6 linked regions of the Homo sapiens genome follow. The protein of the gene in region 4 purifies or fractionates together with the protein of the main gene of each other region. This does not show direct contact. Each region holds a gene or a part of one and is shown on either strand. Other genes may lie near its edges.

Region 1 (5,529 bases), on a different chromosome or scaffold from region 4:
CAAGCTCTCACACAGTCTTTTGTGACTATTCAGGGCACGTGCCCATGAAGTCAACACTATTGCTCCTTAATGCTAACCCAAAGATCTCAGAAACAACTCATCATGGAGCCACACTCATTCGAGCATTTAAGCATTTAAGCACTTAAAAATCAATATAGAGAACCACTCAATACCTAGTGCTTTACTGTCTTATTTTTAGGATAAAGGGGAATAGAGCATATGGCGGCTCACAGTGCAGAAGACTATCAACTCAGAATGCCTAAGTTCAAATCCCACCTCTACCCCTACCAGATGTGTGTTATCTGCAGGTGACCTCACCTCTCTAGATTCACTTTCCTCATCTACAAAATGGGCATATTACTCACCTCGTAGGTTATTAATAGATGAGTTAATAAGTGTAAAATACTTAGAACAGTGCATAGCCAGCAGGGCATGGTGGCTCACACCTGTAATCCCAGCACTTTGGGAGGCCGAGGCAGGCAGATCACCTGAGGTCAGGAGTTCAAGACCAGCCTGGCCAACATGGTGAAACCTCGTCTCTACTAAAAATACACAAATTAGCCAGGCATGGTGGCAAGCACCTGTAATCACAGCTACTAGGGAGGCTGAGGCAGGAGAATTGCTTGAACCCAGGAGGCAGAGATTGCAGTGAGTGGACATTGTGCCACTGTACTCCAGCCTGGGTGACAAGAGCAAAACTATGCCTCAAAAAAACAAAACAAAACAAACAAAAAAAAACAGTGCATAGCCCATTTTACTACAAAAGACATACTAGGTATTATCTGGAAACAATCTTCACAGGCAATTAACCTAAAAGGCCAGCTTCAGCTTCTAAAAGTTATTGTTTGATAATTCAATTCTACATGTATTTACTAAACACCTACTCAGCAACTTCCCCACACCAATGTCTCCTCTTCCTTTAGTATTATTCTCTCTTTACTAGCTACTTCTGCTTCTTTGACAGAAAAAAATAAATAAAACTCACTTGACATTAGCCTTTTCGGTACTACTATCTGGCTAAGAGGAATAGGAATGCCTAGTTTTTGAGAAATATTTTCAAGAAATTTAGAAAAAGCAAAAGATTTTGGCTAACAGTGAAAAAATAATATAAATGACATTTGAATTTTATGCTTATTTTTAGATGCTATTCTTCCCATAACTGTTTTTGTTTTTGTTTTGCTTTTTACAATACATATTCGGCCAGGCGTGGTGGCTCATGCCTGTAATCCCAGCACTTTGTGGGGCCAAGGCAGGCAGATCACTTGAGGCCAGTCGTTTTGAGTTCAAGACCAGCCGGGCCAACATGGCGAAATCCCCTTTCTACTAAAAATACAAAAATTAGCTAAGTGTGGTGGCGCACACCTGTAATCCCAGCTACTTGGCTAAGGCACGAGAATCGCTTGAGCCCGCAAGGCTGAGGTTGCAGTGATGTGAGACAGCACCACTGCACTCCAGCCTGGGCAACAGAGTGGGACTCTGTCTCAAAAATAAATAAATAAATAATAGGTATTTAATAATGGGTAACCAAGTAAGAGCAGTTCAATATAGACATGAAGTAATATGGATTCTAAATTTTTTGTCTAGCAACCATCTCATATATACCATATTATCTTTCGTGGCAGTCAACAAAAACCTTTTATCAAATATCTTATATGCAATTACTAGAATAAAAAACTGAAATAGTCCTAGCAATAAAACTGCATTGAAATTACACTTTTAATTTGTAAATTATTCTAAAGCCTTTATATACACCCAATTTGTAAAATTTTAATGGTTTCCCTAATCACAGCAGTGTAAGTCACAAGATTACAAGATTAAAAAGTAGAATACAGTACACTTTTGAGCTTATATGCCTGTATCACGGAACTACACATTGAGAGTTCTGAGTTTCATATGGTAACTTTTCCTAAGTGTTTTTTTAATTGGAAATATATTAGTAATAATATCATTAAACAGAAGGATGGATGCCCACTGAAAATTTAAAAATACTCAAAGACCCAAATCTATACATGGTCCCTGTATACTATGTGAAACAATAGCAGTTCTTAAACTTTGAGACAGCTTATCTGATGAAAGAACACAAAAGGAAATCGTTTTAAGCTGTTTAACCTCCCAACAAAATTATCTTAGGTGAAACACCACAAGTACAGTACAAAAACATGTCACCAATTCGAGATTTGTGTCTCTAAAGAAATACATACCTACACAGGTAAGAAGTTTCTGGCTGTGACCGAAGGTAGAACAGTCAAAAGTTTAGAGCTTTTATTAGCTAAAATAAGATCCCAGCTAGCCAAGGATCCAGCGAAAAGTTTTGTTGATTACAAATAAAATCGGATCCATTAAATAGGTAAGGACGACTGCTTCATTTCCTCACTTACCAGAAATGACATAAGACTCCCTCAGATCGTTCTGATTTAGTACAAACACAGTCTCTCATAGAAACTCCTATCATTAATGGTAAAGGTATAAAAAACAATTACTCGTCAAGCAAACTCTCAATTTACCTGACCTTCCTGCCTTGCTCAAGTCTACCACTCTGAAAACCACAGTTACAGCCCTAAGTGAAAGCCATTTGAAGAGTCGTTCACATGCACGTTTTGATGTGAGAATACCAATTAAACAAACTGCCAATCACCTTTAGGCCAAATGCAAAAGGGACTGTTTCTGGCCCTGACCTGAAGACTGGGAAACGTCAAGACCCTTTACTGTCAGAAGCTGCCTTAGTTAGAGACTATCGGGATGGGGGTCTCACTTAGGGGCTGGAAGGTGAGGAGAAAGTTACAAGAAAGGCCTAGGAATTGAACGCGTGTAGGTTGGGTGCACTTACAAGTAAGTATAAACTGCTCTTCAATTCAAGTTTATTAATGCTGCCCCACCCCAGGGTTTTAATCCGGTCTGGGCAGAAGCGGGCGATAAAAGCCAAAGGAGACCATAAAGTGTAGGATATTTCCTGGTTAGTGGCTGCCGGGTAATCACGATGCATCCATCTTCCTCGGCGTCGCAGCCCTCAGTAGCCAGAAGGCAGTCTCCTTCCCTGGGGGGCAAAAGCCCCGAGCCCAGCCTGCCCGTTGCCCCGCTCCCGCGGTGGATGAACCTCAACCCTTCCCAGGCTCCTTCCTGGCCCCAGGGTCCCAGGAACCCCGAGACCCTGGGGTGCGGCGCCACTGAGGCCCAGACCGGGGGAAGGAGACCCTGTCACTCGGGAGCGGAGCCCTGTCCCGGGAGCGCACGGAAATGCCTCCTCCACGCTCCCAAGGTTCCTGCTCCGCCAGGCCCAACCGGAAGGAGTCCTCGGGCCGCAGTGGGGCACCACCGGGCCGCCGGGCACTCCAGGCTGCGTGGGGCCTGCCTCAGTGGGCAACTGGGGAGCTAGCCCGGGGCGGCCGCGCCGGCCGGGGCGCCTCACCGTGTGTTCGTGCTCGTCCGCCCGGGTCCGGGGCAGCAGCAGCAGCAGCAGCCACAGCGCGGCGGCCGCCGCCACGCCAAGAGCGCCAGGCAGCGGCCTCATCCTCCGCGCCCCTCCGGCCCGGAGCCGGCTCACCGACTCCTCCTCCCGCCGCCGCCTCCTCCGCCGCCGCCGCCTCCGCCGCGGCCGATTCGCATCCACGGGGCGCGGACAGACGCACGGGGCCCGGCCCAGCCGCTGCCTCCTCTGCCGCCGCCGTCGCCGTCACCGCCCGCTCCTGAGCCTCCCCCGCCCCCCGCGCCTCCTCAGCCTCTTCCTCTGACTCAGCCACGTCATCCGGCCACCCCGGCACGCGCCGGAAGTGCCTCGCGACGCGGGGCCGCCACCGCCGCCGGGCCGAGGGAGGGCCCGGCAACCGCCGCCTGCGCGCCGGCTGCCCCTCGGCTCCTGGGAGCCGCGGCGCTACGGGCCTGCCGAGCACTCGGGCGGGCGCCGAGCAGGCTGGGCCCCGGCGCAGTGGCCTAGCCTGGACCGCAAGGCCGAAGCCGCCTCCGGGCCGCGTCCCGGTGTTTCGGGTTGTGTAACCTTGGCCAAAATGCTTAAGCTTTTTTCCTGGCTGCCAAATGGGGCCGATCGTCTGACCTGCTGCCTCCGGAACTTGAGGGATCAGATCAAATAACCCTTTCCTGGCGCTCGTCTGCCGCTGTGAATGAATCACGGGCTCCTGTAATCACCGTTAGGAGAGATTGTTAAACTCGTACAGGGTTGGATGTTTTAAAGTTACTGAATATTTACTGGACCCCTACTGTTCAATCAAGACATGCTAAGTTAGCTTGCCATTCTTGTTCATTTATGTGTTTACTTAACTATTTCTGGGTCTCCTCTTCCCAGTCATAAATATCTCTTGGAGTGTAAGCTCCTCGGAGCAGAGATCCTGTTTCCGTATTTCCTGTACCTAGAACAGTGCCAGATCCGTAGTAGACACTGAAACAAAAAATCTTTAAAAAAAAAAAAATATACGAATGTGGCACCACCATTTACACAGGCCACTAAGCCAAAAATCTCGAACTTGTCAGATTGTCTCTTCTCAGCCATCAGCAGTCAACAAGTTCTAGCATTTGGTCTCTTAAAAGTGGTTCAAGAGTTTATTTTTCCTCTCCTTCCTCTGCCAGTACCAACCAGTCTTCCGTATCACTATGTATTGCAAGAGTCTCACAAGAAGATATCCATCACTGACTGATCTTCCTCCCGTTTAACATCCCCAACAGGTGCCAGGGTGATGTTTTTTTTATTCTAAAAAGAAACCAGATTATATCGCTCACTCCCTTGCTTAAAACAGTTCTTCAATGTTAGGTAAATAAATCATGGAGTCACCACGAGGGCGTTCATCTGCCAGGCACTATTCTGAACGATATTGGCTCATTAAATTCTCACAGAAACCCTATGCAGCAGGTACGGTGAAAATGTTCCTGTTACAGATGAGGTAACTGAAGCACAGAGAGCTTGAGTGGCTTGCTGAAACACCAGACCCACTCAGTCTGGCTCCATAATAGGTCTTTTTGCTGGTAATGATTTACCAACTATACAGCCACTTTAAAAAAAGGAAATAGGTAAGTACTGGCATGGAATGATAACCAAGAGGTTCTGTTAAATTTTCAAGTTGAAGAAAATAAGAGTTTAACTTCATTTTATATGGCAATATGTTAGTCTGCCCATAGAAAACAATCTGAAAGATTATAACAAACTACTATCAGTGGTTAACTTTCTACTTTGTACATGCCTATAAATGTTTGGTTATTTTTTACAGTGAGCATGTGCTAACTATGTAATCAGAAAAAAAGTTCCCTGCTAAAGGATAAAGTCCAAATTTTTGCCTATTTTATCCCTAATTTATTTCCCTAACTTTACCTTCCACCAATTTCTATGCTCTGCATTCACCCGTATATATTTTTACACCTCTGTGCCTTTGCTCTTTATACTCCCTTTATCTGGCATGCTCTGCTTCACCTTGTGCCTTAGATATTATCCTTTCAGACCTAGCTGATGATCACCTCCTCAGTGAAACCTTGCATGATCCCTTGAGAAATGGAGCATTCCTTCTTTGGGATTTCAATAGCATTTGG
Region 2 (4,871 bases), on a different chromosome or scaffold from region 4:
AATTAAAGATTTGGGAGAAGGATGCTGCGCTCGTTTGGACACGCTGAGTCTTGGGTACTATGGGATAACCAAATGCAAATAAATATTGGGCAAGCAATTGAATGTAGGAGTCTTAAATTCTGTACAGTGCTCTGATCTAGAGATGCAAATTGGGGAGCTGTTAGGATGCAAATGGTAACTCTGCAGCCACGGGAGTGGTGACATTGCCGAGCTGCTGTGTGGAGTGATGTGAGAGCAGGCTGTTGGACTGAACTCCAACGCATACCAAAAATTAAATGTTGGGCAGAGAGACAAGAGTTGCAAATGACCTCTAATCCACCAATACTCCTGAAGTCATAGTTTGTAAATAAGTTTATATTCTTCTCGGCCAACTCTATTACCAGGCATGAAAGTCTTTTTTTTTTTTTTTTGAGATGGAGTTTCGCTCTTGTTGCCCAGATTGAGTGCAAGGGCATAATCTTGGCTCACTGCAAACTTTGGCTTCCGGGTTCAAGCGACTCTCCTGCCTCAGCCTCCTGAGTAGCTGAGATTACAGGCATGCACCACCACGCCTAGCTAATTTTGTATTTTTTTTTTTTTTTTTTTAGTAGAGACGGGGTTTCTCCATGTTGGTCAGGCTAGTCTCGAACTCCCGACCTCAGGTGATCCGCCCGCTTCGGCCTCCCAAAGTGCTGTCCCAGCACTTTTATAGGGATGAGCCACCGCGCCTGGCCGTCTTACATTTTTTTTTCTCCCTTCAATTGTAAAGCCATAAATTGGTAATGAAAGCATTTTAAACACCTGAAATTAATAAACATTTGTAAAATAACTATTAAAACAATCTATGAACCACACGAATAGCCTTTGATTGCTCCAAACCTGGCTTTGACTATTTTGAGCTTTCTATATTACAACAGACCTTTACTTATACTGTAATTTTTCCTCTATCATTCTGTAAGTTTTGCCTTTCCTGATTGCCTGGATAGTCTTTAGTGGATTTACAGCTTGGTGACAGCCTAGAGAGATTTTCTGTGGTCAAAACATGATTAAATAGAGATTTGTTGGTCAGAAGATAACCATGAACCATAATACCCACAAGGGAAAGAGCCAGATTCAGTTTTGGGTGGGTCGATGGGGATTTACCTCATATGCTTTCTTTTATTTCACAAAATGTGTTCTGTTCTTTACTTTCGTATCTGTAGGAATAGAAATGGGAATGTGGCCTCTAGGGTGTGCTGATGTATGTTTAACAGCTGGCTTTCAAGGAAAAAAAAAAAAAAAAGATCTGATTTGCAGTGTTTACTAATTTTTTTGGTGTAAATACTCTCACCATGGCCAATTTCAAACTACCAACTTGACAGCACTGAAGGCAGAAAAAATGTTCACAGTTGGCTCTTGTAAGCCAGTGCAAGCTTGCTCCAGCACACTACTGGACTAGGAATGATCTGCCTGTAGCCAGGAATGGGAAAATACCTTGCCCATGACAGCTTAAGGTATGAGAGGACAGAATTCTACAAAATACAGAGTTTTTACTTTAAGAAAAATGGATTTACTCATCTACAGTCTGTTTATTTGTAGACTTCGACCTTTTTCTTTTGAATTACTGGCCATATGAGTATGCATTATGTAATAACCTTAGCATTGTAACTTCTATTTCTTTATTCATAAGCAATAACAGTTTCTAAAACTGGCTTGTATTTGAGATTGAAATGATGAGAATCATTTTCAATCCAATTTTTTTTTTTTTTTTTTTTTTTTTGAGATGGGGTCTCACTCTGTTACCCAGAGTGCTGGAGTGCTCACTGCAAGCTCTGCCTCCCGGGTTCACGCCATTCTCCTGCCTCAGCCTCCTGAGTAGCTGGGACGACAGGCACCTGCCACCAGGCCCGGCTAATTTTTTGTACCTTTAGTAGGGATGGGGTTTCACCATGTTAGCCAGGAAGGTCTCGATCTCCTGACCTTGTGATCCACCCGCCTCAGCCTCCCAAAGTGCTAGGATTACAGGCGTGAGCCACCGCGCCCGGCCCAATCTAATTCTTTATACCATGAACCAAATAAATTACCAGTTTTATTTCAGGATATTAGTATAATCTGCATTCTAATATATTTCATAAAAGAAAATATTTTATTTCCATTACATAGGCAAAGTTTGTTTTTTCCCATATCAAAGCCAAATATTATTTGATGTACTGACCAATAATATATGTAGAAAGAATAACAGCAAAATATCTTATTTCTTTATATAATTTAATATATACCCTATTAACACCAGTGTGCAGATGTACAGTACTGACAGTATACTAAATAGTTAGTATTAAAAATTACTTTAAAAATGTTTTCAACATTAGGTACTGGTGGAACCAGAGCTGTTATTTTGTACATCATATCATTTATGTGTTGCAAAGGAAAAGTAAAATTTCCAGTAGCATTAGAAAAAAATGTACTGATATTTTATGTAGATATACAAAATCTCATGACATCTATTGAAAACCTCACAATTCTATTGTGCACTAATAAAAACACCTTTTCAAACAACTTGCACTTATACTGAGTTCATAAAGGCTACTATAAAAATATTGCAAAAGCAATAAAAACACAATATCGTACAAAGTCTTTTGTTTTTTAAAAGTCAAATTTTAAAAGGACTGTATTTATATAAATGTGCAATACTTTTTAGTGACCCTGACTAACATTTTTGTTTAGGATTATCTGATTTTAGAAAACTAAGTTAAATGTTTTTCCTTATTTTCTGTTTCAGAATGAGAAGACACTAAGAATGCACAGAGGTTTAGAAATAAGATTGGGTAAAAGCTTTATGAAGTGGGATAGCAAGCACTCTACATGTTTTACTTGTTGCCCTACCAAAGATACAAATGCCTGACTGCCCCAATTTCTGAAATTTAACTTGAATTCTAAATCTTAACTACCCCCCTTTCCTTTATAATCTTTGAGATGAAAGTGTAAAGATTTTAGGTTCTCTAACAAAACCCAAAATATCACTAAAGCCATTCTCCATTTTCAAAGAATATTTAAAGAAATGCGTATTTCAATATAAAACCTGAAAATGCTGAATTAAGACACCTTAATAACATGGCTAGCCAATTACTGATGTGACTTTAGCCTTAGAAAAAGATTATCAAAATTGGCTAAGTTCCAAATTTAAGCATTTGGTTTTATACTGTTAATATTGTACCTTTCTGATATAGATATCAAAGAAAAATGATCTGATTTTTTTCCTGAAAACAACAGTAAAATACAAATTTTTTGTGAAAAAATCCATGTCAAGATAGGAAATACATTGTTTCAAAACTCAGAATAAGTGTTATGAAAGAACTATAAAATTATAAATTTCTAAAAAAAAATACACTGAAAATGTCTCTCTAGGAAAAAATATGCAACTTGTTAGATACAAGAAAATATGGCATTACCATAGGGTGCAGTCAACTAGGCTATGAGACTTTAAAAACTCACAAAAAGTAATTAGCACCAAAATTGTCTGAAACTTCAAATGATATATTAAAGTAGGTCTAGGTCCAAATGTTACATTTTAAAAAAGTTATATTTAACCTGGGAGCTTTCCCCAGTAATAATAAATATATTATTTTTGACCTTTAGAAAACGTTCTATCTTTACTGATTTTCATCACAATATTAAGGTAGTGTATGCTAATTATCATTTACCTTAGTTTAGGCTGGGTAGGGACAATTGAAATCCAAATATTTCCCAAATAATATGAGATTATTTGGTGGGGAGTGTGAGTGGGGAGAAGTTTTCTAAGTGAAACTTACTTTTAGCTTGTTTCATACTTTTTCTTCTGAAATGTTTTATTGGAACTCTTTATAAGAACTATATTGCTTGATTTGAATTCCATGTCCTGTTATTTTCCCTGTTCACTTTCTGGTGGTGTTACTTAAGATTTGGCATGGGGATAGAGGTGTATAAAGGAGACAGAGATCACAGTAGTGAAACAAGAGTTTTGAATAAGCTAATGTATATTCAAAATATATATTCAACCCTGTTATGATCAAGAGTTTAGTTTTAAGTGACATCCATGTATAAATTTACTTACAAAACAGCCAGCACATGATTTGAAACAAGGCAAACTTTTTCGGTTGTCAAAAAGTGAAATATATAACTTCTTCAATTACATATATGGCTACCAAATGTCAAACAATTCAATTCGGCCATGTTTTACTGTTGCACATAAATAATAACAAGGCAAAGAACAGCAACTAGTCCAAGGGCTTGCAGGCCAAGGAACCACAGCATAACCCAAAAGAAAATGACTATTACTGGTTCCACTATTCGTTCTCCAAAATACATCCTTGTGAAGCCCATGTTGATAAGGTTTTTGTTCAGTTCACCAAAAAGTGTTCCCATTTTCTTGTAGTCATCTCCAACCGGCTCACCAGTGTGGTTCTGTGAGTCTTCAACATCCTTTAAAAAAAAAAAAAAAGACAAAACATGAACATAACATGAGAAATATGTAAACGTCTTTAAGAACCTTAGTTCTTCATCTTCCAAAGTGCTGGGCATACTTCTGATAATTATTCTACAAGTACCTGTTAACACAATGGGAATGTTCTTTTTGATCCTGGAATTGCACAAAAATGACTGCTTAAGTGAAGAATCATGTTTGTATTTCTCTTGTGAGTGACCATGATTTCAGAACACCCTTTTCTGCCACCCTCCTGTTTTATGAGGCAAGGCCTGACTGCTCTGTCCTGGTAAGATTCTTTTTAGACGGTTCCTTTGACACTAAGACGTTAAGAAACCGAGCCTCAGATGACCAAAGCATGTTTGCTGTTATTATTGAGCAATCCTCAGCCACTACTGCTGTGATCTTTGTCTTAGGCTCAGCTAAGCAGACTTCAGCGCAGGCCCTTGCATAG
Region 3 (4,871 bases), on a different chromosome or scaffold from region 4:
TTGTTTGGCTGCACCTGTCTAGGAATCCTTCTTTTTAAAAATCCTTATAATGATTTTTTAAAATAAAATAATTTTATTGTAGATTCAGGGGTTACACCATCAGCTTGTTACAAGGGTATACTGTGTGATACTGGGGTTTGAGCTCCTAATCGTGCCATCACCCAGGTTGTGAACAAAGTACCCAGTAGGAAGCTTTCCAGCCCTTGCCCTCCTCCCTCCCTCCCCCCTTTTGGAGTCCCTAGTGTCTATTGTTCCCATCTTTATGCCCCATTTACCCAAGGTTTAGCTCCCCCTGTAAATGAGAACACAGTATTTGTTTTTCTGTTTCTACAATAATTCGTTTAAGTTATTGGCTTCCAGCTGCATTCATATTGCTGCAAAGGACATGATTTTGCTCCTTTTTTATGGCTGCATAGTATTCCATGGTGTGTATGTACCACATTTTCTTTATCCAATCTGCTGCTGATGGGTACCTACATTGTGTTGTAGGAATCCTTTTCTAAGGTTGCAGCACTGGAGAATTGCTGTAATAAAGACTAGGAATTGAATGAAAATCTGCCCACATGGGCCCTTTCTTCTGTGACACCTCCCCTCACAGTTTTTTATCTTTTATCTTCATCCAACCACTACAATGGCTCCAGGGCAAGCCTATCCTTCAGCTGTTAGTGGCTGGATTGGAAAGATGATCTCAAAATAGGCAAAAGTTCAGTGATCTTGGGTCCCAGAGAGAAGTCAGCAGATACTCATAAATACTATCTAAGGCTTCCTCTTAATCCTCACCCTCCAGAACCACAGAGGGCCCTGGCTTCCCCAGACCAACACCTGTGCTCCCTCATCCTGCACCACTGGGAATATGGAGGTGCAGTTTCACAATAAAAACTCTCCACTTTTTATGTAATTTATTTTCCTAAATATGGAGATTGGGTACCCTAAAAAGTTGAATATTAAAATTCAAAAAGAAAATTTAATTTAGCCATTATCTGTAAGCTCTTGCTCTACACTACCCATCATGTCAGATACTGGGGACAAAAACAGACCATCACATGTCCTTGAAATACTCATAGGTTTCCCTCTGGGAGGAGGTTGCACCATGGTTAGTCAAAAAAACTACTGTACGCTTCTCAGTAAACATTTTCCCCCAGAGCTGCTGAGCAGTGGCAAATGTCTAATGCTGTTTCACAAGATGTGCTGTGGCCCAATCAAGAATGAATTCTTTCAAAAAGAGAATTTTATGGTCCACAGGGAATGGTCCTTCCCTGTGCAACACAGAAAATGTAGGTAGTGGCAAAGAGCCACAGAAGGCAGATAGCCAGGCAGAGAATGAGCCTTGGGTTAGAGTCTACAGGACCAAGCAGAAAAGACAGAAGTCGTGGCCAGGGTGATAAGGAAAACAGGCTGACAGCATTTAACAGAATTGACAGGAGAGAACAAACCATAGAGTTGAGAGTTTCATCTAATAAAAGGCAGGTAGTTTTGTTGAATAGCTCTTTCTGCTTTTTGAAATTACCCTGTTCATTATTTGCTTATTATTTTTTATTCCCCATGCACCTACACACACACACAGACCTACTTACTATAGGGAGGGTTTTGAGAATACAATGAAGAACGCTGTCAGTGTTGTTCACCACTATATCCCCAGTTCATTAAACAATGTCTGGCACTGTTTGAAAACATTAAATGAATGAATTTACTATTTATGCTAAGTTACTGGGTAGGTCTTACCATTCCTAGTTAACATTTGAGGCCTCCAGGCATTAAATAACATGCCCAAGGCCACAGTCTAGCAAGCGGTGAAAACATTTGAACCCTGTTCTGATTCCACAGCCTATAATAATAACTATTACATCCACTAAAACAGTTAATGTGTAGTAAACACTATGATCCACGTTTCAGAGTTAGGCTTCAAACTTTCTCAACAAATCCTTTTGTTTTCATAAATCCTGTCAAATATAGATACCTTGGTGGACTCCATTCAATCCTTAAAAAGATAAGATTTTTGAACTCAGCAGGGTCAAAAGAAGTTAAGCAGTGTATTACAGAATGTTGTCTTGTGGAAGCTTCTTTTGTTTTTTCTGGAATACCGATAAAGAAAGTGGGCTAGGAAGATTATAAAGGTGAGTTGGGGCCTTAAACAATGGGCAATCATATACCAGGCAGAGAAGGGGGAATGAGAGAAATCTCAGGCAGAGAGAAGAAAATAAAGGGATCAATGTACATGGCTGTGGCCTAGTCAGGGAATATGGCATGTTGGGAGTTTGGAAAGGTGACAAAAGGCTTAGAATGCTACAAAGATAGAAAGGGTATTTTATACCTTACTAAAGAATTCTTCCATTTTTTTCATTCTTTCAGACACTTTATTTCTGCAGAGAAGGATAACATCAAATTTAGAATATAAATCAGGAGAGAACACAAAAGATACAGATTTTATATATTTTAGAACATTTGACAGAAATGTAGTTGGAATTCCATTGTTTTTCTTATACCATAATCTTTCTGTTGTGATGCCCTAAAATTCACCCTGTGATTTCATATCATGTCTTCTTAATATTGTGCCAGAAACCATAACATGTCTGACAATTAAAATATTAAGGAAATGGGCTGGCCATGGTAGCTCATGCCTGTAATCTTAGCACTTTCAGAGGCAGAGGCAGGCAGATCACTAGAGGCCAGGAATTCAAGACCAGCCTGACCAAAATGGCAAAATCCCATCTCTACTAGAAAATACAAAAGTTAACCAGGTGTGGTGGCATGTGCCTGTAATCTCAGCTGCTTGGGAGGCTGAGGCACAAGAATCGCTTGAATCCAGGAAGCAGAGGCTGCAGTGAGCCGAGATCGCACCACTGCACTCCAGCCTTGGTGATAGAGCAAGATTCTGTCTCCAGAAAAAAAAAAAAAAAGCAATATTAATGAAATAAAAATGAAATGAACCCTCTTTGTTAACAGAGGAATTACTTAATGGAGTGAAATCCTGATTCCACTCAATGCAATAAACATTTGCTAAGCTACTATTCTTCTATGTGACTATTTTTTCTGTGATTGTAAATGTAAAAACTTAAAGACAGAATTAAAAAAATCATAGAATGTAAGAGTTAGAATGGCCCTTAAATCAGGTTACCAGTCCACCCACTCCTCTAACATTGGGTGATCATTCAGCATACACTTCATACCCATGGGCACAGAGGTTCCTCAAGAAGTTCACCAGCTAGTAAATGGGATACCACATTTTAAAGGGTTTTTTAACATGAACTTTCATATTCTGCAACATATGACCTTGTTAAAAGCTCTGTCCAGGATGCAGGCAAGATATCTGCATTTTAAGAATAAGAAAGTAAAGCTCCAGTAAGGCTCAAACTTGACAAGGATTACACGGTCAATTTACACCAAGGACGGAACTCTCTTGTAGCTTGCTGCTTCCCTTCTTGCTCTTGATAATTGTCCTAGTCCAACTGGGCTGCTATGACAAAAATACTATTGGCTTACTTAAAAAATAAGCATTGATTTCTTGCAGTTCCAGACACTGGAAGTCCTAGATCGAAGTGCTAGGAGATTTACTGTCTAGTGAGGACCCACTTTCCGGTTCCATGGACCACTGTTTTCTCACTGTGTCCTCACATGGTGGAAGGGGCAAGGAAGGTCTTCCAGGTCACTTTTATACAAGCACTAATCCCATTCATGAAGGCTCCACAGGAAGAAAGAAGATGGGGGTAGAAGGAGGAAGACAAGAGGGAGAAGGAGGTGCGTAAAGAGAAAATAACTGAAGACTTTTAAAAGGAAATAGGATTACTAGACAAGTATAAGAGAATTAGTAATGGTTAAATACTGTATCTCCTTGTTCTCACACTACATTCTACTCTCAGTCTATACCCTTATACTACTGAGTCCTAGGAGAACTTAATGTGAATTTTCTCTAATTTTTAACTTTAATTTTTCACTAATTTCATAGTGAGGAGATTTGGAACATACAGAAAAGAAAGGTCATACCAGAAAAAAAAATGTAGCGCTTTCACTTCCAATTGGTTCTTAATTTTGTCTCAGGACTTGCCTTGAATTCTTTTCTCTTCCCTGGATAATTCTGGAACACTTAGTAATGGTTAGCTATTATATTCCTTATACCTATTTCTACATTCTACTCTTATTTCTACATTCTTTCCATCTAAAATCTAAAGAAACTTAAACAGAAATTTGTTCTCTTCTAAATGCTCAATTCATTACAAATGCTTGGAAACACGGAGATGAGATCAAATCAGATGAAAATTTATAGAGATTTTGCTTCAAGCTGAGTATTTGGCTTAGATACAAACTACTACCTTGAAACTTTCCACCGAAGAGTCACCCCACAGTTCTCATTTCTATGCTCAAGTAGCCAATGTCCTCACTCCTTGACATTACATAAACCCCTGACATGCCTCTGAAATTTTCTCCCATAAAGGTTGACTGTGTAATCCTAATTCTATCCCATGTGTGATGGTTAATTTTATGTATCAACTCGTCTGGACTAAGGGATGCCCAGATAACTGGTAAAACATGATTTCTGGGTGTGTCTGTGAGGATGTCTCTGGAGGAGGGTAGCATTTGAATCAGTAAACCAATTAAAGAAGACTGCCCTCACCAAATGGGTAGGCATAATGCAATCCTGTGGAGGATGTGAATAGAACCAAAAGGCAAAGCAAGTGCTACGTTTTGTTTGTCCCCACAAAAACTCATGTTGAAGTCTGATCCCTGATGTGGCCGTGTTGGGAGGAGGGACCTAGCAGGAGGTGTCAGGGTTACGGAGGCAGATCCCTCATGAATGGCTTGGTGTCATTCTTGCAGTAGTGAGTGAGTTCTCTCTCTCATGAGACTGAATTAGTTCCCTCAGTAATGGATCAGTT
Region 4 (4,871 bases):
GTACTTTTAGTAGAAATGGGGTTTCGCCATGTTGGCCAGGCTGGTCTCAAACTCCTGACCTCAGGTGATCCACCCGCCTAGGCCTCCCAAAGTGTTGGGATTACAGGCGTGAGCCACCACACCCTAGCCCTGAGTCTGTTTATGCTTCTGTCAGGTGTGGCATGGGCCTGCCTGGGAGCTATTCTTTTTCTGTAAAGCACAGGCAGTTAATCAGTGGTCTCTGGGAAGAATCCAGCTCAGGGTTATATTTCGTTTGACCCACTCAAGTTTTAAAAAGTAAATTAGTTGCCAATGTGCAAACATTAGAAGAGTTCACAGCTTCTCCAACAATACCTAGAAGTTCATCCGATGGTGCCCGCATTCCCTGCTCTGTCTAGATGGTGCCCACATTCCCTGCTCTGTCTAGATGGTGCCGACATACCCTGATCTGTCCAGACAGTGCCTACATTCCCTGCTCCATCTGGATGGTGCCCACATTCCCTGCTCTGTCCAGACGGTGCCCACATTCCCTGCTCTGTCTGGACGGTGCCCACATTCCCTGATCTGTCCGGACAGTGCCCACATTCCCTCCTCCGTCCGGAAGGTGCCCACATTCCCTGCTGTGTCTGGACGGTGCCCACATTTCCTGCTCCGTCCAGACAGTGCCCACATTCCCTGCTGTGTCTAGATGGTGCCCACATTCCCTGCTCCGTCCAGACAGTGCCCACATTCCCTGCTCTGTCTAGATGGTGCCCACATTCCCTGCTCCGTCCGGACGGTGCCCACATTCCCTGCTCCATCCGGACGGTGCCCACATTCCCTGCTCCGTCCGGACGGTGCCCACATTCCCTGCTCCGTCCGGACGGTGCCCACATTCCCTGCTCTGTCCAGATGGTGCCCACATTCCCTGCTCCATCTGGACGGTGCCCACATTCCCTCCTCTGTCTAGACAGTGCCCACATTCCCTGCTCCGTCCGGACGGTGCCCACATTCCCTGCTCTGTCTGGACGGTGCTCACATTCCCTGCTCTGTCTAGACAGTGCCCACATTCCCTGCTCCATCCAGACGGTGCCCATACTCCCTGCTCTGTCTAGATGGTGTCCACATTCCCTGCTCCGTCTAGACTGTGCCCATATTCGCTGCTGGCTGCAAATGCGAGGAGTTGACAGCAGCCTCCCCTTTACAAGGCAGGAGGTGCCACTGTTCGCCATTGTCTCCACCTAGGGCTTCACTTGCTTTCTATCTGCAGACATCAGAGGGACCCACATCTCTCTGTTCTGACACGCTGTGTGTTGATGGCAGAGTTTAATTATCCACATGCAATCTTACTTTCCTTATTCCCAAGTCCGTGGGGCTGCCTCATCAAAGCATTGTAAGAACTGATAACCATCTTCTAGAAGTATCATAGTGATATTAAGAACACACATCACAGATCATAGTAAATGGCTTTAATTTTTTAGCGAAATCTCACTACTGCAAATGCATTGTTGTCCTAGCTAATGAATGCATAGAGTATTGCCTGCAAAATAATAATTGAGATTCTATTTTTAAGAAGCTTAGAACAGTACATGGTGCATAGCAAAGACTCTGTGTATGTGAAGCCAGATTTTAAAATATGGTAACAAGTGTCTGAAAATATGTGGCTCAATTTGTCTCCCGGTTACTTTTCCCTCTCCCCCTTTAAAATGTAGAGGAAGGAGAAGAAGAGATAAGAGGTTTGTGAGTGAAGACAAGGGCCCTTTAAGGCCTGGGAAGACTAACGCCATAGGGATCTCCCTCTGCCTTAAAAGGCACAGGAATCTTAGTGGGGAAAAAGAAGTGGTGATAAATAGCCAGTCCGTGTGCCTGGAATATCAAAGTCAGTGCGTGCCAGGGATCACACTGCGGGTCACGTGCACTCTGGGTCTCTCTCTGCAAACCTGCCCTGCCTCAGTCTGGGAATATGCAACTGCCTAAGAAGGGTCTGGCTTACACAGGGGCCGTGAGACGTGGCAGGCATAGCTGGGCTGCTACTGGTCATGAATCCTGGACACGGCAGGCAAGGTGTGGTGTCCATATGCATTATTCGGGTGGGGCAAAGATCACAGCTCTCACTAGACTTTCAGAGGACTTTGTAACCCAAAGAACCACTCATCTCAAGGACTGTGGTAACTCAGGGGCTGAGCCATGCCAGTGTTTATTATGTGAAACAAGGACTGGAACCTCACAAGACCAAGTCTGTCCATTTGAGGATGGCCCAAGATGCACACGGGCTGCTTTTATCTTATGCGCAGGTTTTAAAAAAATATGTTTCATTTAAATATTCCATACTCTTCAGGAATGCCCAGGCAGCTGAGCTTTCAGGATGTCGCATTGCAGAGGACTCCAATGCTACATATGGCAGCTGGAGACCCTTTCAAGGCAGGTGGCAGAACGGAGGCCCTCTCTATCTGCTGGGGCAGCCCTCCGGGTGCCCCGCTGGAAGGCAGAGCAGCTCCATCTCTGGGTGGGTGAGAGGTGCTGCATGGGCTCACTATAGTATCCCAATACTGTATGGCAGTAGGCTGCCAGAGTATCCTAAGCTGGGTGGCTTCAACAACAGGTACTGACTCACAGTTCTGGAGGCCAAAAGTTTGAATTCAAGCAGGGCTGTGCTTCCTCTGAAACCTGTGGGAGAGGAGCCTTCCTGGCTTCTTCCCGACTTCTTGGGATGGGGATGCGCATCCATCCTCGGCCTTCCTTGGTTTGTGGCTGTGTCACTGCACCCTCTGCCTCTGTCACGGCATGGTGTCCTCCCTATGCATCTGTGTCTGAATTTCCCTCTTCCGATAAGGACTCCAGTCATATTGGGTGAGGGCCCACCCCAATGACCTCATCTCAACTAGATCATCTGCAAAGACTCTATTTCCCAATTAGGTCACATTGAAGGTACCTGTCTTTTTGGGGGATACAATTCATCTCACAAAACCGGCCCATCACCTCAAAAGGACCTGCCACCCCAGTGCTATGTGTCCCTCTCTGCCCAGAGCCACTCCTTCCCCTGGCTCTCGGGGAGTGGGGGCACCTTTCCCTGCTCCCACAGTGACCGAGCACCTTCCCCTTGGTATGCATTCTGAAGGGGGCATTTTTTTCTCCTCCATCTCAGCCCTGTACAAAGCAAGTTCTTTCTAGATTGAGGTGTGTATGTGTGTCTATGTATATGAGTGTATGTGCCTGTGTGTTTTCAGGGAGATGTGTGCAGGATGGGTGCAAGGGAGGAGTGGAAGGCGGAAGGGCAGGAGGAGGATAGAGCCACAAGAGTGAGCACAGAAGTGACAAGGGCAGAATCAGTGTGTGCTTGTGACAAGTATGGAAATGTCATGCCTTTAGGTTCAGTCCTATAAGGTAGGTGTATCAGTAAGGGCATTGATTCTGCGACCTTAACAGAGATCAGAATAACAGTGGCTTAAGGAAGAGTGGAGTGGATTTCTCTCTCCTGTAAATCTGGCCTGGTGGGTGGTAAGGAGGATCCACGTCGCCCAGGCCCAGATGTGTGTGGCTCTTTGAGTGCCCCGTTCTTTCCCAGTCTCATAACTGCTCTCCACCTCCTCCACATCCAGCCACTGGGAAGCAGGACAAAGTTAGTTAAGGGCACGTTCTTTTCTTTCCAAGGATTACTTGGACATTACAGTCTTCACTTCCATGCCTACTGGCCAGGGCTTAGTCACACAACCTTGCTAGCTGCAAGGGAGTCTGGGAAATGCAGCTGCTATTCTCAGAGGCCATGTCCTCAGGGATTCTGCTAAATTTAGCAAGGCAGGGACAGATATGGGGGAACCACTGACAGTCTATCACAAAAGAACGTGATTTTAGAGAAACAGTGAAACAGTGTCATTAATCCACCCCTCACCCCTTACAACAGCCAAAAAGAAATCCAGTGGTATCCATCACAATAAAGAGTATGAGAGGAATGTGATTAGAAAATCAGGTTGCCAGGCAGGATGTGTCCAGTTTTAGCCAGTGGTGGGGTTCATGGGGAAGGCTTCGTCTCAGGAAGGTGTGTGTTGGGTTGTTCTATGGCCAGATGGTTTTCAACGACATAGCACGACCTGTAGCTCTCCAGGACCCGGGCCTGGACATAGGCCTTGTCCTTCTCTTGCCAGGCATCGGACTCGATGTAGACGTTGAATGGGTCGTTCGAGTGCTCCAGCTTCTTGGAGCGGATGTAGCTCAGCATGATGCCCAGGGTGAAGAAGCCGAAGAATCCCAGTACCATGAGGACGTAGAGGGCCTCCAGCTTGCCGTCACTGCTGCGGGGGGACCTGCGGGCCAGGCCCGACATGTTGCCACCCTGCTGAACTGTCTCCTGCCACAGCTTGGTCAGAAAGGGCGTCACCGCTGTGGTGTTAGACAGGATCATCCTGGGCATTAAGGTTCCACTGCTGCAGCTCAAACTTCCCAGGCACACCTCTTAAAGGAAAAATGCAACCCCAAATCAAAAAGTACGTATTGGCCAAAACCCACACGTACGCACACACACGTATACAATTTTAAAATCTCAGGTGAGAGGGGTGAGCTGACACTCCACAGGCCATGGCATGTGCCATCTTGGGTCTGTGCAATGCCTTCTCTTGATAGATGAATGGATACATTGATTCCCTTCTATTTCCATCCACCACTCCAATCTCCACCCCTATAGGTGACCATCAGAATGAGCTTCTTTAATATGCATTGCTGCATATTGTGGCGTATGGGGTTGCATGTGTGCATTTTGGTTTACCTAAATGGTATCAGGTCATCCAACTCATTCAGTCTCCTTCTTTTTCCTCATGACTGTGCTTTTGTGGCTCACTTGCGGTGCTGGGTGTGTGCATTCCCTTGCTTCCAATGTTTGTATACAACCCATGGTGAACACCCACTTCTTTTCTCTGCCT
Region 5 (4,242 bases), on a different chromosome or scaffold from region 4:
TGGCCAACATGGTGAAACCCTGTCTCTATTAAAAATACAAAAATTAGCCAGGCGCAGTGGTGCGTGCCTGTACTCCCAGCTACTGGGGAGGCTGAGGCAGAAGAATTGCTTGAACCCAGGAAGCAGAGGTTGCAGTGAGTCGAGATCACGCCACTGCACTCCAGCCTGGGTGACAGAGCAAGACTCTGTCTCAAAAAAGAAAAAAAAAAAAAGTACACATACATAGTTGGGAACAGCAAGGCTCAGCCCACTTGACAAATAATAATTCCAAATGGCAAACTGATGGAGTGCCGAATGTGAGGTTTTAATGTATAGTTTAAGGCAAGTAGAACTCAAGGGCTAAAAATAAAAAAATGTTTTTAAGTTTTGATAAATGTTTTAAACTTAAATTCTGATTTAGCTTAGACTGCATAAATCTTTAAGAAATTAGTTTTTTAAAAAGCAGGCAAATGGTAAAATCAGAATTATGATATTTGTAAGCTGAATGCCAGTGGCTCATGCCTGTAATCCCAGCACTTTGTGGGGCTGAGGCAGGTGGATCACTTGAGGTCAGGAGTTCAAGACTAGCCTAGGCAAGATGGCGAGGCATGTCTCTGTAAAAAGAAAAAGGAAAAAAAGAATTATGATGTTTGAGTTCAACTTGGAAAGTTACCTTGAAAAAAACAAAAAAAAAACAAAAAACAAACAAAAAAACCCTGTCATTTCAAAAACACTCCTGCCTATCATCACCAAAAACGAAACAGTTCCTGTTCCCCCAGGAGTTCCAAAATACATGGTACCCAGCAACTTCATTCGGCACTTGCTACAAAATCCGTTTCTTTGCTGAGAATTCTTAGCCATTGCTGGAGTGAATGTAGCTAAGAGTAGAACTAGGATTACTGTAATAGTTACTCTGTTGAAGTGATCTAGAAAATGAGATGTGTTGAAGCGGGGAAGTGTTTGATTGTCAGGTCTAGAGGAAAAGAATAGGAAAAGTCTCCGAGCTTTGAATTTCCTGATGTTTACATAGTACAAAGGTTTATTAGAAGAGGCTGACGAATGTCTAAAAGGCTCAGTTTCTTCTATTGTATTTTCAAATAGCAGAGAAATAGCTTTATTTTTACTACTCATAACAGTTTATTTTTACTTTGTACAAAATACAAAAATGCAAATCCAAGGAGTACAGACCAGTAGTGACAGGCACACTGCACAACAGCAACCTTGTCTAGCAAGACAGGAGTTTTTTAAATTTTATTTTAGTGAATACATGCATTATATAAAACAACAACAACAACAACAACAAAAACACAAAGAGGCTAGAGATTTCACCGTTTCTACCACCAAAATAACGCTTGCTATCAAGACTTTGGAGGGGGATGGGGGAAAAGAATTTAAAAGGCAAATAATTTTTTTTTCATAAAAAGTAAAAGCTACCATAAAACATTTTTTTTTCTGTCACACTGATTAAATTTCTTCTGAAAAGCCGCACATATAGACAAAACAAAACAAAAATTCCTGAACTGGACAAACAGCAAATACTCAACAGGGTTGTTAACCTAGGTAACAGTTCAGTAGTTTAAAGAATCTTTTAGACATCTGGAAGCCTTTCTATTCATTCCTCAGTACAGTGTTCCAGCCATCCTGCTTGTTTTTTCCCTCCAATACCTCCCAGAACAGAAACACTTGCATCGAGTCTGTTCCTAAGAACTAGTTTTGAAAAAGAAGCGATGTACAAAAATATTTAACAGAACTATGAAAGATGCAGGAAAGGAGTCTTTCTTCGTAGCAAAGTAGTCGTTGCTTTGCATGGTTTCTTTTGTATACTCTTCAGGGTTTGTTTATCTGCCCCATGAATAACACAGCACCTACAGAATTAAAAGAAAACAATGCATGACTCTGTAAATTAATAATCCTTAAAATAAGATGGAAGGTATTCTATTTAAGGGAAGGGAAACAATCATGTTTGACCTCTTGCTCAGTAGTGTCCAGTATAACTTTCTGCAGTGGTAGAGATGGTCTATATCTTTGTTGTCTAGCATGGTAGCCACTAGTCACATGTGGCCAGAGAGTGCTTAAAATGTGGCTAGTGTGACTTAGAAGTTGAATTTTAATTTTATTTTTTATTTCTTGAGACAGAGTCTTGCACTGTCACCCAGGCTGGAGTACAATGGCGCCATCTCGGCTCACTGCAATTTCCGCCTCCTGGGTTCAAGCAATTCTCCTGCCTCAGCCTCCCAAGTAGCTGGGATTACAGGCACCCACCACCACTGCCAGCCAATTTTTTGTATTTCTAACAGAGATGGGGTTTTGCCATGTTGGCCAGGCTGGTCTCGAACTCCTGACCTCAGGTGATCCACCCGCCTTGGCCTCCCAAAGTGCTGGGATTACAGGCATAAGCCACCGCACCCAACCAGAAATTGAATTTTTAAAGTTAATGTTAAATAGCCACATGTGGCCAGAAGCTCCTCATTGGCTGGCTCAGTTCTGGGGCATGCCAATTAGAACATCACAGATGCAATGAGATAAGAGAATAAGGAACTATCTCATATTACTGATTAAATAAAATAGTAAAAGCTAAAATATATTAGTGCCTACTCTTGTACCAACAAGAAGCCAACCTCTCTACAAAGATGAACTTATACTTCATAATTGTAATAAGCAGTCAGCACTACTGTTGTCCTCATTTTAAAGATGAGGCTTAAGGCCAGAGCCAAGTTTGAACCATGACTCACAGAGCAAAAATCTACTGTATTAACAATTCCCAAGGTATAACAATAGAGTGGGCTTACAAAGTGGTATGGTTTGGCTCTGTGTCTCCACTCAAATCTTGCCTCGAATTGTTAATAATCCCCATATATCAAGGGCAGGACCAGGTGGAGAAAACTGAATCATAGGAGCAGTTTCCCCCATACTGTTCTTGTGATAGTGAGTGAGTTCTCATGAGATCTGATGGTTTTATAAGGGGTTTCCCACTTCACTCGGCTCTCATTCTCTCCCCTGCTGCCCTGTGAAGTGATGCCTTCCACCGTAATTGTGAGGTTCCTGAGGCTTCCCTAGCCATGTGAAACTGTGAGTCAATTAAACCTCTTTTTCCTTGTAAATTACCCACTCTAGGGTATTTCTTCATAGCAGGGTGAGAACAGACTAATACACAAAAGTTGAAGTTATATAGCTTCTAGCAAAATTGAACCACCACATTTATATAAATATGGAAAAGTCAATAGATGTCAAAAGTGTTCCAAAGGGATGCTGAGCCTCTCTGTTAAAAACAACAATCCGCAAAACCTAAAATCCTGTCAGTGTGTAAAAGATTCCATCACATCTGTAAACACAGCCTTTATTTTCCTATCTCTTTAACATGGGTGGTTATATTATTCAAAGTGTCTGCAACTATTGACATTAGGGAAATGGACTATGGGCACCACTGTTGGATATAATGAAGAGTGCAATATACCTTTTGAAATTCTAACAGAGAGGGCATGATGGAAGAGGAGAGTCACTTACCTGTAGGATTATGTCGGATGAAAAACAGAAAAGGTCTGTCTACTATAAACCAGGGAGGCGATGATCTTGCAATGAGAATTGCAGCTACGGGAAGAAAAGGAAAATGTGTTGTGCACATTACATGAGACCATGTAAGCATAAGGCCAGCAAGTTAGCTAGCTTCATGGACCCTCAGAGGCTGGTGTCTGAAGACACACTTCATGCTTGTTCCATAGGCTGGCCATGTTACAACAGGCTCAATGGTCACCATTTACTAAGCCTACCTTGGGCCAGGCCCTTTACATTACTCTCTCATGTCTTCTACACAAGCACCATCTCTGATAAACATACTTACTCCTCATAGAGTTTTGATGAGAATTAAATGACATAATTAAATGACATAAGATATATTATAGCTCTTAGAACAGTGTTTGCCACTAAACACATCTAATGCATATTTATTGTTATTAGCTATTTTTTATTCACACCATCTGCTTTGCTGATAAAGCCCCCAGTCCTTTTTTTTGGGGATGGAGTCTCACTCTGTCACCCAGGCTGGAGTGCAGTGGCGCGATCTTGGCTCACTGCAACCTTTGCCTCCCGGGTTCAAGCGATTCTCCTGCCTCAGCCTCCTGAGTAGCTGGGATTACAGGCATGCACCACCACGCCTGGCTAATTTTTGTATTTTTAGAGACAGGGTTTCACTATGTTGGTCACGCTGGTTTTGAACTCCTGACCTCAAGTGATCCACCTGCCTCAGCCTCCCAAAGTGCGGGCATT
Region 6 (4,232 bases), on a different chromosome or scaffold from region 4:
CGGAGTGGTGGGCATCAGGCAGACTCCCAAGATGAAGGCACTCTAAGGACAAGGGCAGACCATGACAAGGATGAAACAGCACCAGGGAGCGGGGAGTTGGCTCAGCTCACAGCCCAGCATGCGAAGAGCATTGAGTTTCGTGTGTACCTTCACTGCTCCCCATAAGCCACTGCCTGGGTCTGTCTCCTGCCCTGGGCTCCAGAGTCCATAAGCAGAGCCATGCCCCACTGACACCAAATCTAGGCCACCCCAGCTAGGCCCCCACCTGCAGTGACAGTCACATCAACCAACCAGGAAGGCCTGTGTTAAACTTTTAAACCATGAGCAGAAGCAAGCTCACACTCACATGTGCATGTGTGTACATGTGTGGGACAGATCCTGATGCACAAACCTGTCTTTTCTGCCTGGCATCCCTCTCTGTCACCCCTCTCCCCCTCTGACCTGTGGATCTCTTCCTTCTCCCTGTCTCTCCCAGGCCCTGGAAAGGGGGAGATCCCTTCCTTCTCTCCTCCCTGCTCTGGGCACAGGGAACCTTCCAGGCTGCTCAGAGACCAACACCCGCCCCACCCAGGCATGGGCAGTGAGAACGGCACAGTTGTCTTTAAAACAGTCAACAGCCAGGCGCGGTGGCTCACACCTGTAATCCCAGTACTTTGGGAGGCTGAGGCGGGCGGATCATGAGGTCAGGAGATCAAGACCATCCTGGCTAACACAGTGAAACCCTGTCTCTACTAAAAATACAAAAAATTAGCTGAGCGTGGCGGTGGGTGCCTGTAGTCCCAGCTACTCGGGAGGCTGAGGCAGGAGAATGGCCTGAACCCAGGAGGCGGAGCTTGCAAGGAGTTGAGATTGTGCCACTGCACTCTAGCCTGGGTGACAGAGCGGGACTCCATCTCAAAAAAAAATTAATAAAATAAAACAGTCAACAAACCCACCTCCGAGGGTCAGAGGTTTCAAAGACTCAGTGAGAAGCTGCTCTGTCTCTGGAGGCCTTTGGCAGCTCCCTGCCTGCAAACCCACCCAGCTGGGCACAGCCTGCCCGCCACCCATTGGCTCTCCACACCAGCCTCAGTCATTGCACCACATTCCTCTGGGGGCTGCATGTCCTTACAAGCCCAGCAGCACATGCACACACATGTACACACACACAGGCACACGCAGGCACTTGCACACACACCCTTCACTGTCCCCAAGACATCTGCCTTGCCTTGCTCCCCGGTCATGGGAATGAGTCACCCTGAAGGTTGCACCCTCTTCAGGAAGCTCCTCTTGAGATCCAGGATCACAGGGGACCAAGGTGATACAAGTGAGGTCCATCTGCAGCCAGACACCAGGTGAGCTCTGGTCAGGGCTGGAGTCACCAGTGTGTCCGGGGCCCAATTGTATTGGATAAGATAAGGCTAAGTTGTGGGTGGCAGGGGGAGCCAGGACTCAGACCAATTTCAGGTTAGGGTCAACGCAGGCTCAGGAACTGGGTGAGGGAGACAAGTGCAGGGCTGCTTCCACAGTCAGTGTGAAGCCAAGCTGTGGGAGCCAGGGTGCCCCACCCAGCAGAGGCACATGGCCCTCAGGGGCTAGACACCAGGTCAGTGTCCCATCAGGACTGCCTCTAAATGCATGTGGTTCAGGGGGTTTTTTGTTATCTTGAATCCAGGGCCCTACAGAGACAAGATTCTGTCTCCCTGGAGATGACCTGTGTCAGCCCCCAGGGAGCACCCCCACTGCACACACCCAGACCTGGATACAGGGGCAGCCCTGTGGGCCTGGGCATGCAGACAGACCCGGATTCCTGTGCAGGCACACCTATGCATGTCCAGACAGGAACACAGGACACAGCAAGTAACAGTTACACCCTCCCAGCACCACTGGAGTCTCCTCAGGATAATTATTTATTATTCATAGTCATCAGCATCTTCATTAATTATTCATATGATCCTTAATTATTATCCTTAACAATAAGAGCAGTAAATAGCAGAAAAGTCCTTGAGGTGCCTAAGGCCCAGGGCCGGGTGCCTCCGGGCAGTTAGACCAGCTAATGCCCTCAGGGCAGTGGGGGGACCACAGGCCCCACCTACTGCCGGCCCTGCCCCTGCCCCTCTCACTGGGGCCCAGGGGACTGCAGGAGAAGATGGTCCCAAGGGCTGGGGGAGGAGCTGTGCTTTCGAGTTCCTCTCCCCTTCCACGGTCAGGGCCTCCTGAGCAGGGCCTCCAAGGGGAGCGGCCCAGCAGCGCCTTGATCCCTGGGTGAGCCACGTGTCCACACTGGGCAGCCCCACTAACTGCCCGGGTCCGAGCCGTGTCTGTGCAGGGGCTGGGAGGTGAGGGCCCCCAGCTGGCCCGGTAGGGAGAGGCGTCGTGTGGGGCCTTCTTGGGGAAGCTCTGGGGCCCCCGGGGGCAGCTCCTCACACGCCATGAACTGGGAAACCTGCAATACACACAGAGCATGGGCAGGCGAAGAGGCCATGGAGGAGGAGGAAGGGGAGGGAAAGGGGCAGGAGAACCCGGGGACAGAGGATGGACGGGAGGACAGGAGGGCCAAGAGGAGAGTCAGGTGGGCAGAGAAGCTGGAGGGGACAAGAGCCAAGGCAGCGAGAGCAGGACAGGGGCCACCAAGGGGAGGCACCAAGGTGGGAAGTAGAGAAAGGCATTCTCTGAGAGCAGGAGCCAAACAAGAGAGCTGGGAGCAGGGAAAACCCTAGGCCCCTGTCTCTTCCCGAGGGAATGTGGCCGCTGAGCCCAACCCAACCTGGAACAAGCAGTCTCTGTGTTGGGACAGAAGCTGGGACAGAAAAAGAGACAAGATTCCTTCCCGCAATCCAGAAAGAACTCGGGGACCTAGAAACAGAGGCAGGCTGGCGGCCAGGCATCTGAAGGCCAGGGAGAGGGCCGGGGCAGGCGGGAGGGGTTTGTGGGTACTGAGCGTCTGCTGGTGAGAGCTCTGCGGGGGCGGCTGCGAAGGGAGACTGGCACATTTGCTGACGTGGGCCCTCGTGTCTGCAAACAGGAGCAGGCAGCATATGGGAGGGGGGAGCGGATGCCAAGGGAAGTGGGGAGGGAGCAGATCCCAGGCCGCCTCTGGCAGCCAGAGGAGTCCCCACCATGGACGCGGAGGTTGACACAGACACCGCCATCCTGCAGAGGCCAGGAACATGCAGGTCCACCCAGGAGAGGACAAGGGGCAACTAAGGCCCATCTCTAGCAGAGGGGGCAAAGCAGGCCCAGGAAGTCCTCCCCTGGAGGCTTGGCCTCTGCACCCTGGGAAATGCCAAGCACCCTCAAGATGACCCTGTGACAGCCACTGCCAAGGGCAAGGATGGGCAGGACGGTGAGACCAGGGAGTGTCACTCACAGAAGGGACCCGGGACCCTGTCCCTAGATACTCTGGTATGCAGCCTCCACCGCCACGTCTCGGGCTCAGTCAGTTCTTGGAGACCACCCGTGGCCGTGAGACAGGCACCACCGTTGGAGCTGGCTCTTCAGGCGATGCTCCGGGGCCTGGCGGTGGAGGCTGTGGACACTAGGGGAGTGAAGCTGCGGGCCACTTAGCCTACAGGTTCCCTGCACCCAGCTGTCTAGGGGCTTTGGACGGGGGACTCTCCTGCCCTACCCTGAGCCTGCAGCTCCTGAAGCAGCCTTCCTCCAGGAGGACAGGGGTGGGAGGAGGGCAGGAACAAGGTTCAGGGAGGCTGGGCCACAGAGCCCAGCAGAAAGGCAGCAAAGCAGGTTTGGGCTGGAATCGGGGAACAAGCGGGTCACGGTACATCGAGGAAGCAGGGCTGGAGCTTACCTGAGAAAGCGAGTCCAAGGTGAGGGTGGGGAGGGGGCTGACGGGCAACAGCGGGGATGTGGAAGTGGGGCCAGGCCCCGGGGTGGTCACAGCACTGTAGGCGGGCGGGACCAGCGTCATCTGCCTCTGTAGCAGCTGCAGGACAGTGGCCATGTCTGCACTCAGCCGGGTCTCCAGCCTGGGGCAGGAAGTGGGGGATGCTCAGAGAAGTGGGGACACCAGTGACAGCCTCCACCGGGAGTGGGGAAGGGGAAGGGGAGGGGGGAGGGGCAGCCTGTCAACCCAGGCCCTCCGCGCTAGAGGTGTGGCAGCCCCCAGCTGGGCTAGGAATGGAAGAAGGGGATCCAGCTGCTGCACACACAGACAGGCCCTCTCCCTCTACCAGACAACACCGCCAGGACCTGGACCAGACTCCAGGGCGTGCCCCCCCACCCCACCTGCACTC

The links.
Region 1: the proteins of KCNE1 (region 4) and TM9SF3 purify together in Homo sapiens (affinity purification with mass spectrometry; one large-scale study listed by BioGRID and IntAct). This does not show direct contact.
Region 2: the proteins of KCNE1 (region 4) and FAM241A purify together in Homo sapiens (affinity purification with mass spectrometry; one large-scale study listed by BioGRID and IntAct). This does not show direct contact.
Region 3: the proteins of KCNE1 (region 4) and SLC25A24 purify together in Homo sapiens (affinity purification with mass spectrometry; one large-scale study listed by BioGRID and IntAct). This does not show direct contact.
Region 5: the proteins of KCNE1 (region 4) and SERPINE2 purify together in Homo sapiens (affinity purification with mass spectrometry; one large-scale study listed by BioGRID and IntAct). This does not show direct contact.
Region 6: the proteins of KCNE1 (region 4) and KCNH2 purify together in Homo sapiens (affinity purification with western blotting, with the first as the bait; one study listed by BioGRID). This does not show direct contact.

What each region holds. Positions count from the first base shown.
Region 1 is NC_000010.11:96,583,328-96,588,856, forward strand, and holds the start of TM9SF3 (transmembrane 9 superfamily member 3 precursor), read right to left. Parts: upstream 3,686-5,529; 5' UTR 3,509-3,685; coding exon 3,407-3,508; intron 3,382-3,406; exon of another isoform or gene 2,984-3,381; coding exon of another isoform or gene 2,828-2,983; intron 1-2,827.
Region 2 is NC_000004.12:112,186,238-112,191,108, reverse strand, and holds part of FAM241A (uncharacterized protein FAM241A), read right to left. Parts: intron 4,417-4,871; coding exon 4,171-4,416; 3' UTR 1-4,170.
Region 3 is NC_000001.11:108,193,121-108,197,991, forward strand, and holds part of SLC25A24 (mitochondrial adenyl nucleotide antiporter SLC25A24), read right to left. Parts: intron 1-4,871. UniProt on the Homo sapiens protein: Electroneutral antiporter that mediates the transport of adenyl nucleotides through the inner mitochondrial membrane. Originally identified as an ATP-magnesium/inorganic phosphate antiporter, it also acts as a broad specificity adenyl nucleotide antiporter.
Region 4 is NC_000021.9:34,445,278-34,450,148, forward strand, and holds the end of KCNE1 (potassium voltage-gated channel subfamily E member 1), read right to left. Parts: intron 4,408-4,871; 5' UTR 4,367-4,407; coding exon of another isoform or gene 4,358-4,366; coding exon 3,968-4,357; 3' UTR 1,413-3,967; downstream 1-1,412. UniProt on the Homo sapiens protein: Ancillary protein that functions as a regulatory subunit of the voltage-gated potassium (Kv) channel complex composed of pore-forming and potassium-conducting alpha subunits and of regulatory beta subunits.
Region 5 is NC_000002.12:223,974,061-223,978,302, forward strand, and holds the end of SERPINE2 (glia-derived nexin isoform b precursor), read right to left. Parts: intron 3,568-4,242; coding exon 3,484-3,567; intron 1,845-3,483; coding exon 1,807-1,844; 3' UTR 985-1,806; downstream 1-984. UniProt on the Homo sapiens protein: Serine protease inhibitor with activity toward thrombin, trypsin, and urokinase. Promotes neurite extension by inhibiting thrombin. Binds heparin.
Region 6 is NC_000007.14:150,943,090-150,947,321, forward strand, and holds the end of KCNH2 (voltage-gated inwardly rectifying potassium channel KCNH2), read right to left. Parts: intron 3,966-4,232; coding exon 3,788-3,965; intron 2,426-3,787; coding exon 2,276-2,425; 3' UTR 1,872-2,275; downstream 1-1,871.